Linked DNA regions of Homo sapiens: all the other regions are linked to region 1. Evidence: fine-mapped expression QTL. A gene starts in region 1. Each other region holds a variant in brackets. All regions are shown on one strand. Distances are between the middles of the regions. Region 1 holds the start of BTBD10 (BTB domain containing 10). Region 2 overlaps BMAL1 (basic helix-loop-helix ARNT like 1). Region 3 overlaps BTBD10 (BTB domain containing 10).

The links. PIP is the estimated chance that this variant, and not a neighbour inherited with it, causes the effect.
Region 2: its variant is the best candidate, but not a certain one, in a credible set for the expression of BTBD10 in uterus (GTEx, PIP 0.68).
Region 3: its variant is the best candidate, but not a certain one, in a credible set for the expression of BTBD10 in whole blood (INTERVAL, PIP 0.53).

Annotation. Positions count from the first base shown.
Region 1 is chr11:13,460,322-13,465,548 of GRCh38, forward strand. It overlaps BTBD10 (BTB domain containing 10), which reads right to left and starts at 2,901. Exons shown (of 9, transcript NM_032320.7): 1 at 2,771-2,901. RefSeq lists an enhancer at 3,081-3,270.
Region 2 is chr11:13,371,205-13,376,431 of GRCh38, forward strand. It overlaps BMAL1 (basic helix-loop-helix ARNT like 1), which reads left to right. Exons shown (of 20, transcript NM_001297719.2): 13 at 959-1,205; 14 at 2,891-2,997; 15 at 4,408-4,558. Among named protein-coding and RNA genes, the nearest start is that of BTBD10, 89 kb to the right of the region's middle. The variant G/A (reference allele first, on the strand shown) is at 2,396.
Region 3 is chr11:13,424,887-13,430,113 of GRCh38, forward strand. The region is part of intron 2 of BTBD10 (BTB domain containing 10); the gene reads right to left. Among named protein-coding and RNA genes, the nearest start is that of BTBD10, 36 kb to the right of the region's middle. The variant T/C (reference allele first, on the strand shown) is at 2,642.

The DNA of each region.
Region 1 (5,227 bases):
TCTCCCTTACCTAACTTCCTCTCTCACCCTTATCCCAAGTGAAGACCCCCAACTTGCCCTCTATATGCCTAAAAAACACCTCTTACTTAGCTTTGACCTCTAGCACTCCCATTCCCCATAACCCAACTAGGTATGAATCAGATTATGTGATTAAATTACTTCACATTAATGGGTAAATGAGGCTTAATCCACAAAGGTCAATTCCACACGTCATTAAACTCTACTATGTATAAGGCACTAAGTTTAATCAATTAATATACCTATCCTTCTTACAAGAAAAACTAACACAAATCAATCTTTTAATGAACAATGTAAGGAAGGGGCACAAGAGTGTTTGCTTCACATCACACTTTCTCCACCCAGTTCTTTCCATCCTGTTGCCAAACCCCTCCAATCTCCATCTGGCATGGAATAAAATCCAAGGGATCAGTATTTCTTCCAGTAAGTCAATGCCTAGGAAGACAATGTGGGATAGCACAGCAAACAATAAACATTCAAATCCTGAAATGGACTGTAGAGGGTCTCTTGTATTTAATTTTATATATTAGCTGCAAATACAATAAAGAGCTTCTAAATAATTCAATTTCTGTACAAGATACCTATAAATCAGCTTTGCTCAGAACTCTGAGTTTTTAAACCATAAATACTGAGATGCTTTTTCTTCAGTTATTTCCACAGTTAAAACGTTTATAGTAAATACCAGTTCAAATTGCCCTACTATAACTATACTTAAAGGCTATTAAACTTAACTACTGTTTTCAATTAGATGTGACATTTTTCCCAAGACCCCTTAAGTTTGAAACTCCAAACTTGCTTTAAACCTCCTTTTTTTCCAGTCATAAAATTTATTAATTTTGATTTATAACAGAGCTTCTAAACTGGAGAGGAGAATACAACTATGGACAGGTTTGGATTTGATTCAGTCACATGATATTTTTAATGGTTTTAATTAGTTGTCAATATTTTTAAGACGCAAGACACTGAATGCAAAAATCTAGATTTCCGAGTTCTCTTGAGAATGCTGAAGATGGGGTCCATATTCTTATATAGCACTGATTAGGGGGACCTGAGACTTGGATGTCTCTCTGATAAGGCATAGTGCATTTCCCTCATTTTCATTATCTAACTAGTACCCGAAGGCATGTGAGTTTGTTGCTCATGCTATGGCTTTGAAAGGTGCACAATATTTTCCATATCACTTCCATACTTCCCTAAGTCACCTATTATAAAAAGCCAAAAGCAGACCACAGTGGTTTGCAACTCCATAGTTAATAATTTAAAAAATTCACATGGCTTAGAGGGAGTGAGAAAGAAGAAAATTCAGACTGGTGGAAGGGTAACATAATTACATAGGGTTAGAAGTCTATCTGAAAGCTTTTCTGGGAGTGAGAAAAAAGGTGAACGAACACAAAAACATTGTTGAAACACTAAAAGCTTTCCTGATTGAACACTGTTACTCTCTGGTGGTTCCTTACCACATTCCATGCTTCAGAAACTTCCTTCCTACTTTGTATGTATTAATATAATAGCTGTTAGGTCATACACGCTGAGAAATATTGGGAAAATTTATAAAACACATTTACATCATCAGAAATAATTCTTCTCACACTTTTTTTTTTTTTTTTTTTACCAGTCTTGGTCCACTTTCAAATCCCTTCCCAAGTATTTTCTACTGCTTTCCGCTTTATATTCAAATGACAACTGCAGTCCTGGGTTTCAGGACTGAACTTCAATCCTGGACAGGCTCTCTAATACAGAAACTCTTTTGGCCGTTATGGCTGCATTCTTTATTATATCTCTTATTCCGATTTCCACAGTCTCTTTCATTGAAAATTTATCCCTAACCCCCTCTCTAAAAGATTTTGATCAAATTTGTGTAGTTGGGGGGTTGGGAGGATAGGGGCGGGAAGGAACTCAGTTGTCCAAATACAATTAATATCCTGTGCTGTTTCATTTAGATTGCTAATTTAAATAAAAAGCATGAAAACTCTGCAAGATAATAAATCTTCGTAAAATAATCTTGTTTACTAAGTGCACAAAGCCACAAGCAAGTGAAGCTCTATCTTTCAGCATGTCTGGACTAGTGACTTTTCATCATGGACTCAGAATACTGAGAAAGGAGAAGCAGGAAATCTGTGAGGCCCAGGGACAGTCACACTGGCCCACACTAACAAATTACTAACCGATGTCTCACCTTCCCCCGCCCCATTCCCAAAGATAAGGGTGTCAGGGCACCTGCATCTGAAGAAGAAAGACATCAGAACCTTTTCCGTGCAAGTTTTAAGAAAACAAAGCTTTACCACACGTAAAATGGTTACAACATAAAACCACGCAGCACGTTAGTGGGGTCTCACTCCTCTTCACCCAGAGGGAGGCTGCCCACCACCTTATCCCCTATTGTGATGCGCCTTCCTCAGGATGTCGCTGCGTTCGTCTGAGATGACAGGAAAGGGGCGGGGCACGGGGTTCCTCTGCCCTGGAAAGGGATGAGGGTATCGCCTTCATCCCCGGAGAAAGGCCCCCGGACTCCCAACCCAAAAGCAGCAGCCGCAAAACTCAAGTCTTATCCCGGCCTCTCCTAATTGGGTGCTCGTGGCCGGAGCCCAAAACGCCACCCACGGTACCCGAGCAGGGTCCGGCCGCCCAGACCACCGCCGCAGCAGCCTGGCTCTCACGCCCAGATTCGCCCTCCGCCCCTTTCCTCTTTCGCCCCGGCCAAGCCCAGCCTCCCGCGCCGCCCCCGCCGAGTTCCCCAGCTGAGTCCACTCACTCTCGAACCTGTAGTCCCCCTTCAGTGCCCACACAAGATTGGGGCAAAGGCCGGGGCCAGTGACACCTCCACTTCCTCCTCAGCCAGATCCCTCCGGAGGTGGCTGTGGAGGAAGCCACTGAGGCGGCTGCGCGTAGCGGAGCCGCCCCGGCAGGTTGCAGGCCGGCTCCTCAGCCTCTTACCGCGAGAGCTCACAATGCGAAGAGGCGAGGCCAGCAGCGTTCTCGCGAGAACGGTGCTCTCCGCCCAGGGGTGGGCGGGGCACCGAAGGAGAAGGCAGTTGAGGGCGCGGCGGCCACGGGTGGGATCTCAGGCGCGTGGAGAGGAAGGCGCCGCGCGACCTCTCCTCACAGACATCAGCTCGGGTCAACCGCGGGCCTCGAGCCCGAGTGGCTGAGGGCTGTTACCTTCAAACCTTTGAATCCCACGTTTTCCCCTTGACTTCCTGTCACCGTTAGAGAAAAGTGGACAGCGTCTCGGTCACAGAGTTGGAGAAATAGTGCAGGGACTCTTCAGGGAGAGCGTTTTCCTCATCAAAGCAAACTGCAAAATCGCTTCTGCCGGCGTGGACCTGATGAGAGTCGGTCGTCGTGAGGGACACCCTCTGTTCCCTAACGTCCCCCGCTGCTTATTTTTAAACGCTCGGTTGGCGGGAACCCCTGTGCCAGCTGAAACTCCTTCAGTTTGGCCGCCTAGGAAACACCGAGAGTCACCTACATGGGCTGGCTGGGCAATAAAAACGGGAAAAAATGTAAAAGACACAGTCTCCGCCTTCGAAGCTTACACCCCCGGGGCAAGACCTACAGGAAAATAGATAATCCCATTATTCTCTGATAAAAGCCGAGCTGCTTGCCATGAGCTCTGGGAGCAGACGGGGAGGCCTTGTTGAGAAAGCCTTCACCTGGGAGTGACAATTGCGCTGAATCTTAAGCATAAGTAAGTTCTCCAGTTTAGGGAAGAGAGGGAAGGGCATTGCAAGGAGAGGAAGCAAAGAGGAAGAGGACCTGGTTTGAGTAATTGGGTATGAAAACAGATATTGCAGCAAGAACTTTGTTGAAAAACCTTTAACCACTGTTTAGTTCGGATGAGAACATTCCCAGGCTCCTACGTGTGATACGCAAAGTATTTTCCAAATCAGTGTTTATGCTAAGAAGATGAGCAGTTGAGCTGGACAATTATAAGATAACTTCATCTTTCTCCTGTAAGGACACTTAAATATCAGAAACCTAAGAGAAACGGGTTATTGTCGTAATTCACTAAGTTATTATAGCCAACATTTTGCTAAATTGGAAATTGCCAATAATTTCAAGTTGTCTACATAAGAGCAATCTAATAGGAATTTTGTGATACAGTTTCTCAGAGAAACTCTGAGAAAATTCTCAGGCAAAAAACAAAAACGTCATCAGTCCTGATTTATTATCAAAATTTTCTCCTATAAGCTCTGCTCAGAAGAAGTCATTCTGTAGTCCAAGTTAGGGCTAATGAGGAGCCATACTCTTACATCAAAATAGAAGCTGTCCTTTTCTAAAGAAAGACTCTGGTATTTTGCTGTAGTTTCCACTCACCTTCCTTTGGACACATTATTTTCATATTACATATAAAAATATGTATACTATATGAAAAATACTATGTATACTATAGTTTTATTTGGCTTACCATACTCTCCCTACGAATAAGCCCAACACTTAGGAGGAAAACAAAAAAGTTATTCTAACCCTGCTGATACGGTTTGGATCTATGTCCCCACCTGACCTCTCATGTGGAATTGTAATCCCCAGTGTTGGAGGTCGTTGGATCATGGGGGCAGATTTCCCTGTTTTTGCCATTCTGGTGATAGTGAGTTCTGGTGAAATCTGTTCTTTAAAAGTGTGTGGCGCCCCCCCACCCCCGCCCCACTCCTCCCACCATATAAGACGTGCCTGCTGTACCTTGGCTTTCTGCCATGATTGTAAGCTTCCTGAGGCCTCCCCAGAAGCCCAGCAGAAGCCGTCGGACTTCCTGTACAGCCTGCGGAGCCGTGAGCCAGTTAAACCTCTTTGTTTTATAGCAGTGCAAGAATGGACTAATGCACCTGCCATAGGCCAATTGGGTGTTCTGTTAAGCATAATTTCACATCAAGTTCTTGGAATTTTCCAGGAAGCATTAGAAGAATCATATGAATGAAAGACTTCAGGCAAAATATGGAAACTTTGTTCCATGCTGGAATCTGTTCAAACCATCATATCCTACTTGGATGGGTCCTGGAGCTCATTTCATTCTGCTGTTCTTCAAAAACAAAAGAGAATGGGAGTTGGGAGAAAATAGAAAATCGAATAAAGTTTCTACTGTTCTTTGCTTTAAAAGAAAATTAATCGGCCGGGTTCGGAGGCTCGCGCCTGTAATCCCAGCATTTTGAAAGGTCGAGGCGGGCAGATCACGGGGTCAGGAGATCCAGACCATCCTGGCTAACATGGTGAA
Region 2 (5,227 bases), 89 kb before region 1:
TGAAGTCTATAGGTGCTCCACATTTAATGTGTCCCAAATCGAACTATCTTTTTTCTCTCTCTCTCTTCTAGTCTGTTTTCTTTCTTCTCTGAGTCAGTGAATGACACCAGCAACCACCCAATCCAGAAAAGTTAGAGTCATCTTCATTTGTTTCTTTCCCTTAAGCCTGATATTCACAGCAAATCCCAACAGTTTGATCTCAGAAATTTCTCCTGCTTTCTTTCTCTGCTCCCTCTCATCTTCACTGCACTGCCATAGTTCAGTCCTCCTAATCTCTTGCTGTATTATAGCCACTGGCCCCTGAATCAGCCTTCCTACTTCTGTTTTCTACTGTCTTCCAGTTCATACGTCACTCTGCTCCTACAGCATCCAAACCACAATTTGATTTTGCTGTTTCTGCACTTAAATACCTGTAGATGCTCTCCATTTCCTGCCTTAAAAAGACAGACCAACATTGGTTAGAAAGTAATCCAAGGCCCTTTTAATCTTCCTCCAACCTGCCTTTCCAATTTGCCCCTCACTCCCAGTACCTCCAATTTCACTTCAACCACACAGAGCTCTTGGCCAGTTCCTATATAGGCTGTGCCTCTGTGCCTGTGTACGTCATCAGCCTTTATACATTCTAGTCCCTCAGCCACTGCTCATCCTTCTTGATCCACCTCCTCTACTGGTTTTTTGGGGGAGCCTTCCTCTCCCTAGGAAGAGTTAGATATTCCTTCCTTGGTGTATGTAATGAATGTCCATGGTATAACTGGCCCTACTTAAGCATTCTGACACTGGATGACAGTTTGTTTCTCTTTCCGTCTGCCCCTTTCATTAGATGCTTACTTCTGGAGAGTGAAGCCTTGATTTTTTTTTATTTTTTGACTCCCTACCTACATCCCATCCCACCATCGGCCGTGTACACCTCCATGGCCCAAACCTAGTGCTGACACTAACCACGAACTTTGCTTTCTAGCAGATCGAAAAAGCTTCTGCACAATCCACAGCACAGGCTATTTGAAAAGCTGGCCACCCACAAAGATGGGGCTGGATGAAGACAACGAACCAGACAATGAGGGGTGTAACCTCAGCTGCCTCGTCGCAATTGGACGACTGCATTCTCATGTAGTTCCACAACCAGTGAACGGGGAAATCAGGGTGAAATCTATGGAATATGTTTCTCGGCACGCGATAGATGGAAAGTTTGTTTTTGTAGACCAGAGGTAAGAGTCTACATACTACCCTTGAGCAATGATGGTAGAGGATTTTCAACCCTGATCTAAAAAGCAGAGAAGACTGGGCCATCAGCTGGCTTTTCTAAGAATGAAGAAAGAAAGAAAAAGCTGGGTGCAGTGGCTCACACCTCAAATCCCAGCACTTTTTGAGGCCAAGGTGGGTGGATCACTTGAGCCCAGGAGTTTGAGACTAGCCTGGGCAACGTGGCAAAACCCTGTCTCAACTAAAAATACAAAAATTAGCCAGGCATGGTGACACATACCTGTAGTCCCATCTACTCTGGAGGCTGAAGCAGGAGGATCAGCTGAGCCTCGGGAGGTCAAGGCTGCAGTGAGCTGTGATTGCACCACTGCACTTCCGCCTGGGCAACAGAGTGAGACCCTGTTTCAAAAAAAAAGAGACAAATGATGAGAGTCTCTGTTAAAAAATGAGATTCAATAGGATATCATCATAAATACAGAGATTTTTCTGTCATTCTTTGGCATATAGAGACAATTAAGTGGGGTGCCTTGATGTCCATGGCTAAAAGAAAAACAGTAGGGATAGCATGCTGTCTGAATCTATGGAATGTTCCAGAACCATTATTGTGATTGAAATTCTTTTGAATCTAGGACTTGGAAGCAATTATTTAGTCCTGAGCTGTCCAATAAAATACTCGTTGGCCATGGTAGCCTCCCATGTGGCTAACGGCACAGACATAGAACATTTCCATCATCACAGAAAGTCTTGTTGGACAGCGTTGATCTAATCCAACCTCCTTATTTTATGGATGAAGAACAGAGGCCAGCCTGGGGACTGGTCTCCTGTAGGATTCACAATTAATTGGTAATAGACCTGGACCAAGGACCCAGGTGTCCCAAATTTACTGCTGCCTACTGCTTTCCCTCAGAATATGCACAGGCTAATAATTTTTCTGGCTACTAGAGACAGCCACAACATGCTGGAAAAAGAGACAGCCTCAGCTGTCTTGTGGCCTCAGCTGCTGCAGCTTCTGGCATTTGGTTGTCCTGATAAAAAGGAGGCAGCAAAAACTAGAAGCCTTGCACTGAGGTTTAGATTTATACCACATTTTAATCTAATTAATGTGGTTCCTTTTTTAAAGACAGATCTCAGTCTGTCACCCAGGCTAGATCTAGTGCAGTGGCGAGATCTTGGCTTACTGTAGCCTTGACCTCCC[G/A]GGCTCAAGCAGTCCTCCCACCTCAGCCTCCCAGGTAGCTGTGACCATAGGCATGTGCCACCATACCCAGCTCATTGTTCTGTGTTTTTGGTAAAGACAGGGTTTCACCATGTTGCCCAAGCTAATCTTGAATTCCTGAGCTCAGACAATCTGCCCAACTCGGCCTCCCAAAGTGCTGGGATGACAGGCATGAACCACCATGCCCGACTGGTTGCAATTTTTAAAGCCCCCTCAGATTTGATTTCTTGTGATAATAGTCCCTTTACAAAGGCTTTGCTCTGTTTCCCTCTATTTTTATAGCCTTGATTAAATTCAGATGCCTGAAAAAAAGAGAGAAAGATCCACACAGTGAGCCCTCTGAAAATCCATCCAGCTCTTTTGCCTGCAGCTTTGACCTTGCTCTCATAGGCTGTAGCAGGGTTTATCCATTGCAAAGTTGCAATTAATCATCTGAATGGCTTTTTCTTCTTTAAATATTCCTTTATTCCCTTTTAGGGCAACAGCTATTTTGGCATATTTACCACAAGAACTTCTAGGCACATCGTGTTATGAATATTTTCACCAAGATGACATAGGACATCTTGCAGAATGTCATAGGCAAGGTAAGCTAGGATGTATGAAAGATCTTAAGTTGAAAGTGTCCCCTTGCTTCTAGACTAGTCAACATGACCTTCCAGGGAAATCTGTCCACTGAGGATGTAGAGTCAGCCAGCCTAGGACTCTTCAGGTCAGAACATCTGTGTGAAGAGGAAGCTGATACCTGCAGGCACTGTTTATCCCCCTTGTAGTTGCCCTGTGCTGACTGCATGGCAGTTTCTGAAAGACATCTCTTGTTCAGAGGGTTTTCCCAGACCCTGTAAAGATTTAGTATGGCCCAGACTGATCTGATTCTCTTTTCCATTCAAGCCTGCACTACCTCCTGTGTTTTCTGTCTTGACTAATGCTGTGGCTTCATGTGCAGGCTCCTGAGAGAGACCAACATTGACCCCTTCTTTCACTGTGTCTCCACCAGATCCTGTTCATTCACCTCAGACATGCATTTCCAAAAGTCTACTTTTTACCACCTCTGCCATCACCCTGGTTCAGGCCCTCGTGCCTACTTAGAGACCTGTGATAGACTTCTCAGGGTTTCTCTGATCCCTCTCACCCCCAGTTCATCTTCCATAGTTATCCTATTTATCCCCAGATAGATTGAGCCTGGTAACATCAGCCTGCTTAAAAACCTCCTGCTTTAGACTCAAGCCCAAATGCTTTTGACAGGCAATCAAATGTGAGACCTTCCACCTTCTGGCCCCAGCCCACCTCCTCAGTTTCAGTCCCCATCCCTGCCTGCAGAGGCCTGTGCTCCAGGCACACTGACCTCACTGGCCTCTCCCCAACCAGACCCTGCTGCTCCTCAGGCACTGCTGGGTTCTTCCCTCCCTCCTTCTCTTGGCAAACTCGTGTTCATCCCTCAAGGCTCTGATCTCTTCTCCCTGTATAGCCTTCCCTCACTACTCTTCTTGAGGGCAGGAGTCATAGCCTGTCTCCTCTTGTATCTCCAGTGCCTGGCACATGAGAAGGGCTCATTACATGTTACATGAAAGAATGAGGTTGAATAGGTGAGTAGCCTCTGTTGATTTGGATGTTCTTAGAAATGAGATAAGTTCTATATTGCCCTTGGGCTTTGTGATTGAGATAAAGCATGACATTTTGGACAGTGCCTTCTCATTTGCTGGTGGTCATGTTAGAGCTGATTCCAGTTAGATGTATAACATGCAGTCAGTAATTCCCTAGAGCCTCAATTTTACAGACTATGGAAAATCATGACAGCTTCACAAATGAATTGAAAGGCTCTGAGTTAGACCCTCAGAAACAACCTATTTCCTGAGTGTTGACCACTGCAGTTTCCTTGGCTTACTAAAGAGCGATGTCGTTGGAGCTCAAGTACCTTTAATATTTTGTATTGGATGTCCTGTTTAATACTTTGGTCTGAGAAAACAACAATGTCCATGTTTTCTTTACATTTTCAGTTTTACAGACGAGAGAAAAAATTACAACTAATTGCTATAAATTTAAAATCAAAGATGGTTCTTTTATCACACTACGGAGTCGATGGTTCAGTTTCATGAACCCTTGGACCAAGGAAGTAGAATATATTGTCTCAACTAACACTGTTGTTTTGTAAGTACTTTTCCTATATCTGAAGCTCCCCTTGCTTCAAACAGATGCCTAGGGTTCCTCATCTGGGAAATGGGGTGCAGGCAACATCCAGTATCACATCCTTTAATGCCATCTTGCTAATACCTGTGAAGCCTCAGGACTGGCAGAAGCTAGAAAGGATTGTTAACAAAGGGACAAGCTTCAGGACTTGTACCATGCAGGCCCTGGCTTATGAAACTGCTCCAGGAAATAGCAACATTTCCTTCCAGATAAAGCAGCTAACCTTTGAATTCCACAGGCCCTGCACCCTAGGCATCCACTTGTGCTGCTGTGGAGGAAGGGGTTGGCAATCTATGAAAGGCTCATTCAGGCACTAGCTCACACTGGCCTTGGCTGAGGATGGGGAGGTCTCCATACCTGTCAGGCAGGGGGCCCAAGCACTGGCAGCTGGAATGCCATCTCAAAAGGCTGCTACCTGCTAGATGAGCAGAGGGAGGTGAAGGAGCCTCTCTTTGGCCAGGCCTGCTCCCCACTTTTCCTTCCCCATAGTGTCCAAAACCCCACCTATGGTAAGAGCTGTGTGAGGGGCCGGGGCTAGGTGCACTGCAGGCTGGCAGGAGGAGGTGCTGTAATGATGGCAGTAGGTTACTGCAGCCACCACCTCTGCTGAACTGTGTCCCACACATATTA
Region 3 (5,227 bases), 35 kb before region 1:
TAAACACAGAAAGGGGAAACACAAGCAGAACCCAGTGGACTCTGAGTGAAAGACATGGAGCTGAGACATTGGGATAAGAGATGGCTAGAGTTCTAAGGGAAAAGTACCAGAGAGGAGAGTGTAACACAGAGAGAAAACCTCAGAAATTTGCAGAGTCCTCCTTGAGTACTGAGCTGGATACCAGTCACACATGTGAGGACACTATGAAAAGAAGCTGGGGAAAAAAAACAGCTCAAAGGATTAGAGGAAATAGTGCCCAGCACTCATACAGGGTCAGGAATAGGTCCTGTTCCCACTGGTTCAGACTGGAAAGCCTAATAATTTATAGGGCACTGGGAAGAGAATTAGAAGGTTCTAAAATGGGAAATAATTACAACTAGACTGAGCACTGTTCCAGTTCCCCTAATAAATTTTAACATCAAGACCAAAAGGACCACACTGTTTCCCTATAGCTAAATCCTAAAGCAAAGCTCAAGAATATTTATAAGAAATATCAAACACACAAATGAGGTAAAATTTACAATGTATGGCATCCAATCAAAAATTATCAGGCATGCAAAGAAGTGAGAACACATAACCCATGAGGAAAAAAAACATCAAGTGAAATAAAACGTGAACTGACACATACGTTAGAATGAGAAATAAAAACATTAAAAAGTCACTATAACCACAGCCCTCCAAAAAGCAATGTAGAGACATACCAGATTAAAAAAATGCAAATCAAGCTTCCAGAGATAAAAATGTTTACATGTGAGATGAAAAGTATACTAAATGGCCCTTTAAAATGACTATAGTTAACAATAACTTATTATATATTACCAAATGGTTAGAAGAGAGAACTTTGAATGTTCCTGACATTTTTAAAAAATGATAAATGTTTGAGGTGATATACTAATCACCCTGAGTTGCTCACTACACACTGTATACATGTATTGAAATATCACTCAGTACCTCTAAATATGTATAATTATTACATGTTACATGTCAATTAAAAATAACTTTAAAAAAGAAAAGCACACCGAATGGAATTAATGGGAGATTACACATTATAGAAGAAATGATTAACAAATTTGAAGACAACGCAATAGGAAATATTCAAAATAAAAAAGAGAAAACAGAAAAATAAACAGCATGAGTAAGCTGCAGGTTCATTTCAAGTGGCCTAATATAGGTGTAAATGGAGTCCATGAAGGAAGTGGGAAGGAAAAAAGGGAAGTAATATCTGAACTTTCTCCAAATTTGGCAAAAATTACAAACCCACAGATTCAATATGCACAACAAACTCTACAAACACTTTAAAGAAAAAAAATGAAAACAAACCCTGTCAACCTAGGTTTTTCACAGCCAGTAAAAACATCTTTCAAAAATAAGAAGGATCTGCATTGATTTGTCGAAAAAAAATAAGAAAGTACAGACATTTTCAGGCAAAAAAAGACACATGAATTCATCATGAGAAGACCTGCATTGCAAGAAAAGTTAAAAGGGAGTCCTTCAGGCAGAAAAAAAAGCTAATGCCAGATAAAATATGAATCTACACAAAAAAATGAAGACTACTAGAAAAAGTAACTGCATGGAAGAATATAATTTTTTTCTAATTGTTTAAATCTCTATAAAAGATTAAACAATAATGATAATAATATAATATGGGGTTTATAACATATACATATAACTAGAGTAGCACAAAGTCTGGGAGAAAGAAATGCAAGTATACTTTTGTAAGGTTTTTACACCACACAAGAAACAGTATAACATCACTTGAAGGTATACTGTGATAAGTTAAAGATGTATACTGTTAATACTAAAGCAACCACTAATATAAGAAAACAAAAGAAATACAGTTAATATACCAAAAAAGGAGATAAAATAAAATCATAAAAAAGGATTTGGCTAATCCAAGAAGGCAAAGGAAAAAAGGGGTTGGGAGGAAGAAGGAAAAGGAACAAATGGGACAAACGGAAAATAAATAACAGGACAAGACTTAACCTTAACCATGTCAATAATCACATTAAATACAGATAGCCTTAGCCATTTAGATGTAAACTGTCTAAACCATAAAAGGTGAAGATTATCAGATTGGATATAAAAGCTAGATCCCCAGCCTGGCAGATCACTTGAGCCCAGGAGTTCGAGACCAGCCTTTGGCAACGTGGCAAAGCCTCATCTCTACAAAAAATACAAAAATTAGCTGGGTGTGGTGGCACATGCCTGTGGTCCCAGCTACTCAGGAGGCTGAGGTGGGAGGATCACTTGAGCCTCGGAGGTCAAGGCTGCAGTGAGCGGAGATCGCACCACTGCACTACAGCCTGGGCAACAGAGGGAGACCCTGTCTTAAAATAATAATAATAATAATAAGCCAGGTCCAACTATATGCTATATGGTACAAAGAGATTCAATATAAAAGAATGAGGAAAGATACACTATGCTAGCACTAGTTCAAAGAAAGCAAGAGTGGCTATATTAATATCAGACAAAGCAGAGTTCAGAACAAAGAATATCACCAATGTATTTCATAAAGATAAGGGGGTTAATTTATTAAGTGCACATAACAATCCAAATGTTTCTCTGCCTCATGAGAGAGCTTCAAAATACAGGAAGCAAAAACTGATAAAACTATGAGAACTAGACAATTCCACAATTATCA[T/C]CAGAGATTTCATCACCTCTCTCACAATATTTAACAGAAAAACTACACAGAAAATCAGTAGGGATTGATGAGATTTGAATAACATTATCAACTGACTTGATCTCATTGACATTTACAAAACACCCAAAAAGGGCAGAAAACTCATGCTTTTCATGTGCACACAGAAGAACATTTCTCAAGATAGATCATATTTTGGGCAATAAAACAAGTATCAATAAACTTAAAAGAATTTAATCATACAAAGTATGTTCTCTGATTACAATGGAATTAAAGTAAAATTCAATAACAGAGATACCTAGAAAATTCCCAAATACTTGGAAATTAAATAATATCTTTACCTAAACAACTTACAGAGCAATAAATAAATCAAAAAGGAAATTAGAAAAGTTTGAACTAAAAGAAAGTGGAAAAAACCCCAAGATACCATAATTTGTGGCATGGTATGACATTGTAACAGTACTTAGGGGCAAATTATGGCATTAAATTCCTACATTAGAAAAGAAGAAAGGTCTAAGAAAAATGACATCAGTCAATAAAATTGTTAAACCTCTACCCAGACTGCTTGGGACAAAAATCGAGAAGATACAAACTACCAATGTCAGAAATAAGAGAGGCTACAGATACTAAAATAATAATAAAAGAATATTATAAACAACTTTAAGCCAATAAATTCAACAACTCAGAATGGACAAATTTAAACCTACAAAAAAGCTCACTTAAGAAAAGGTTGAATAGCTCTGTTTACTGAAGAAATTTAATTTGTAGTTTAAAACATTCCTTCCAAGAAAACTCTAGGCTCATATGGCTTCACTGACAAATTCTACCAAGCATTTAAGATAGAAATAATATCACCCCTACACAGCTCTTCCAGAAAATTGATGAGAAGATAGTATTTCCCAACTCATTCTATGAGACCAACATTGCCCAGACACCAATATCTAGAAAATTCCCAAACACTTGGAAATGAAATAATACCTTTACCTAAACAACTCACAGAGCAATAAAGAAATCAAAAAGGAAATTAGAAAATTTTGAACTAAAAGAAAGTGGAAAAAAATATTACAAGAAAATAAAACCACAAATCTTAGAACACAAATATCAATATTCTAAACAAAATTTTAACACATCAAATCCAGCAATACATAAAAAAAGAATAGTAATCAAAGACCAAATGCTCTCCATCTAAAATCAGAAATAAGAATCAGAAATAAGAATGTCTACTGTCACTTTTCTTCAACAATGTACTGAGGATTATAGCCAGTGCAATATGGCAAGAAAAGACATTCAGATTGATTAAGATGTAAAACTGTCTTTATTTGCAGAAAACATGATCATCTATTGTAGGCTCTAGTAAGAAAAAAAGGTTACTAGAACCAATGAGTTCAGCAAGGTTGCAGAATACAAAATCAGTATTTTAAAATGAACTTTATTTCTATATACCAACAATACGCAACCTAAAATTGAAATTTTAAAAACACTACTTACAAATAACACCAAAACCTGAAATACTTAGGGATAAATATGACAAAAGATGTGAAAAACTCACACATTGGCAAAACCTGAAATACTTAGGGATAAATATGACAAAAGATGTGAAAAACTCACACATTGGAAATTATAAAACATTACTGAAATTAAGAAGACCTAAACAAATGGAGAAACCTACCGTCTTTACAAGTCAATTTTCTCCCTAAGTTCATCTACTAGATACAACATAATCCCAATGGAAAACCAAGTAGGCTTGCTTGTCAAGAGTGACAAGCTGATTCCAAAATTCATATGAATACGCAAATGACCTAGAATAGCCTAAATAATTTTTTTAAAAGAACAGTTGGAAGACTAACATGATCTGATTTCAAGACATATTAAAAAACTGTAGTAATGAGTAAAGTGTGCTACTGGCATAATGACAGGCACATAGATCAATGAATCAGAATGAAGACTCCAGAAAAGAACTCACATACATATATATGGACAACTCATTTTCAACAAGGGCTCAAACACAATTCAGGGAAGAAAGAGTTTTTCATCAAATGGTGCTGGAACAAATGAATATACAATAGGTATTTCACTTTCAGCAATTCTAGAGAAAAAAAAAAAAGAACTCTGTGCAATAGTTCCCATCATATGCAAAAGTTAACTCAAAATGGACCACACACCTAAATCTGAAACTTAAAACTACAGAACTTCTAGAAATAAAAAGCCTAATGCATAAAAGAGCAAACCGACAACTGAACTTCATCAAAATTAAAAACTTTTGATCTTCAAAAAACAGTGTTAAGAGAATGAAAAGAGGCTGTGCGCAGTGATTCAAGCCTGTAATCCCAGCACCTTGCGAGGTTGAGGTGGGAGGATGGCTTGAGCCCAGGAGTTCAAGACCAGCCTGGGCAACATAGTGAGACCATTTCTACAAAAAAATTTTTTAAAAATTAGCCAGGAGTGGTGGCAGGCATCTGTGGTTCCGGCTACTTGAGAGGCTGAGGTGGGAGTATTGCTTGAGCCCAGAAGTTTGAGGTTGCAGTGAGTCATGGTCATCATGCTACTGCACTCTAGCCTGGGCAACGAAGCAAGACACTGTTTCAAAAA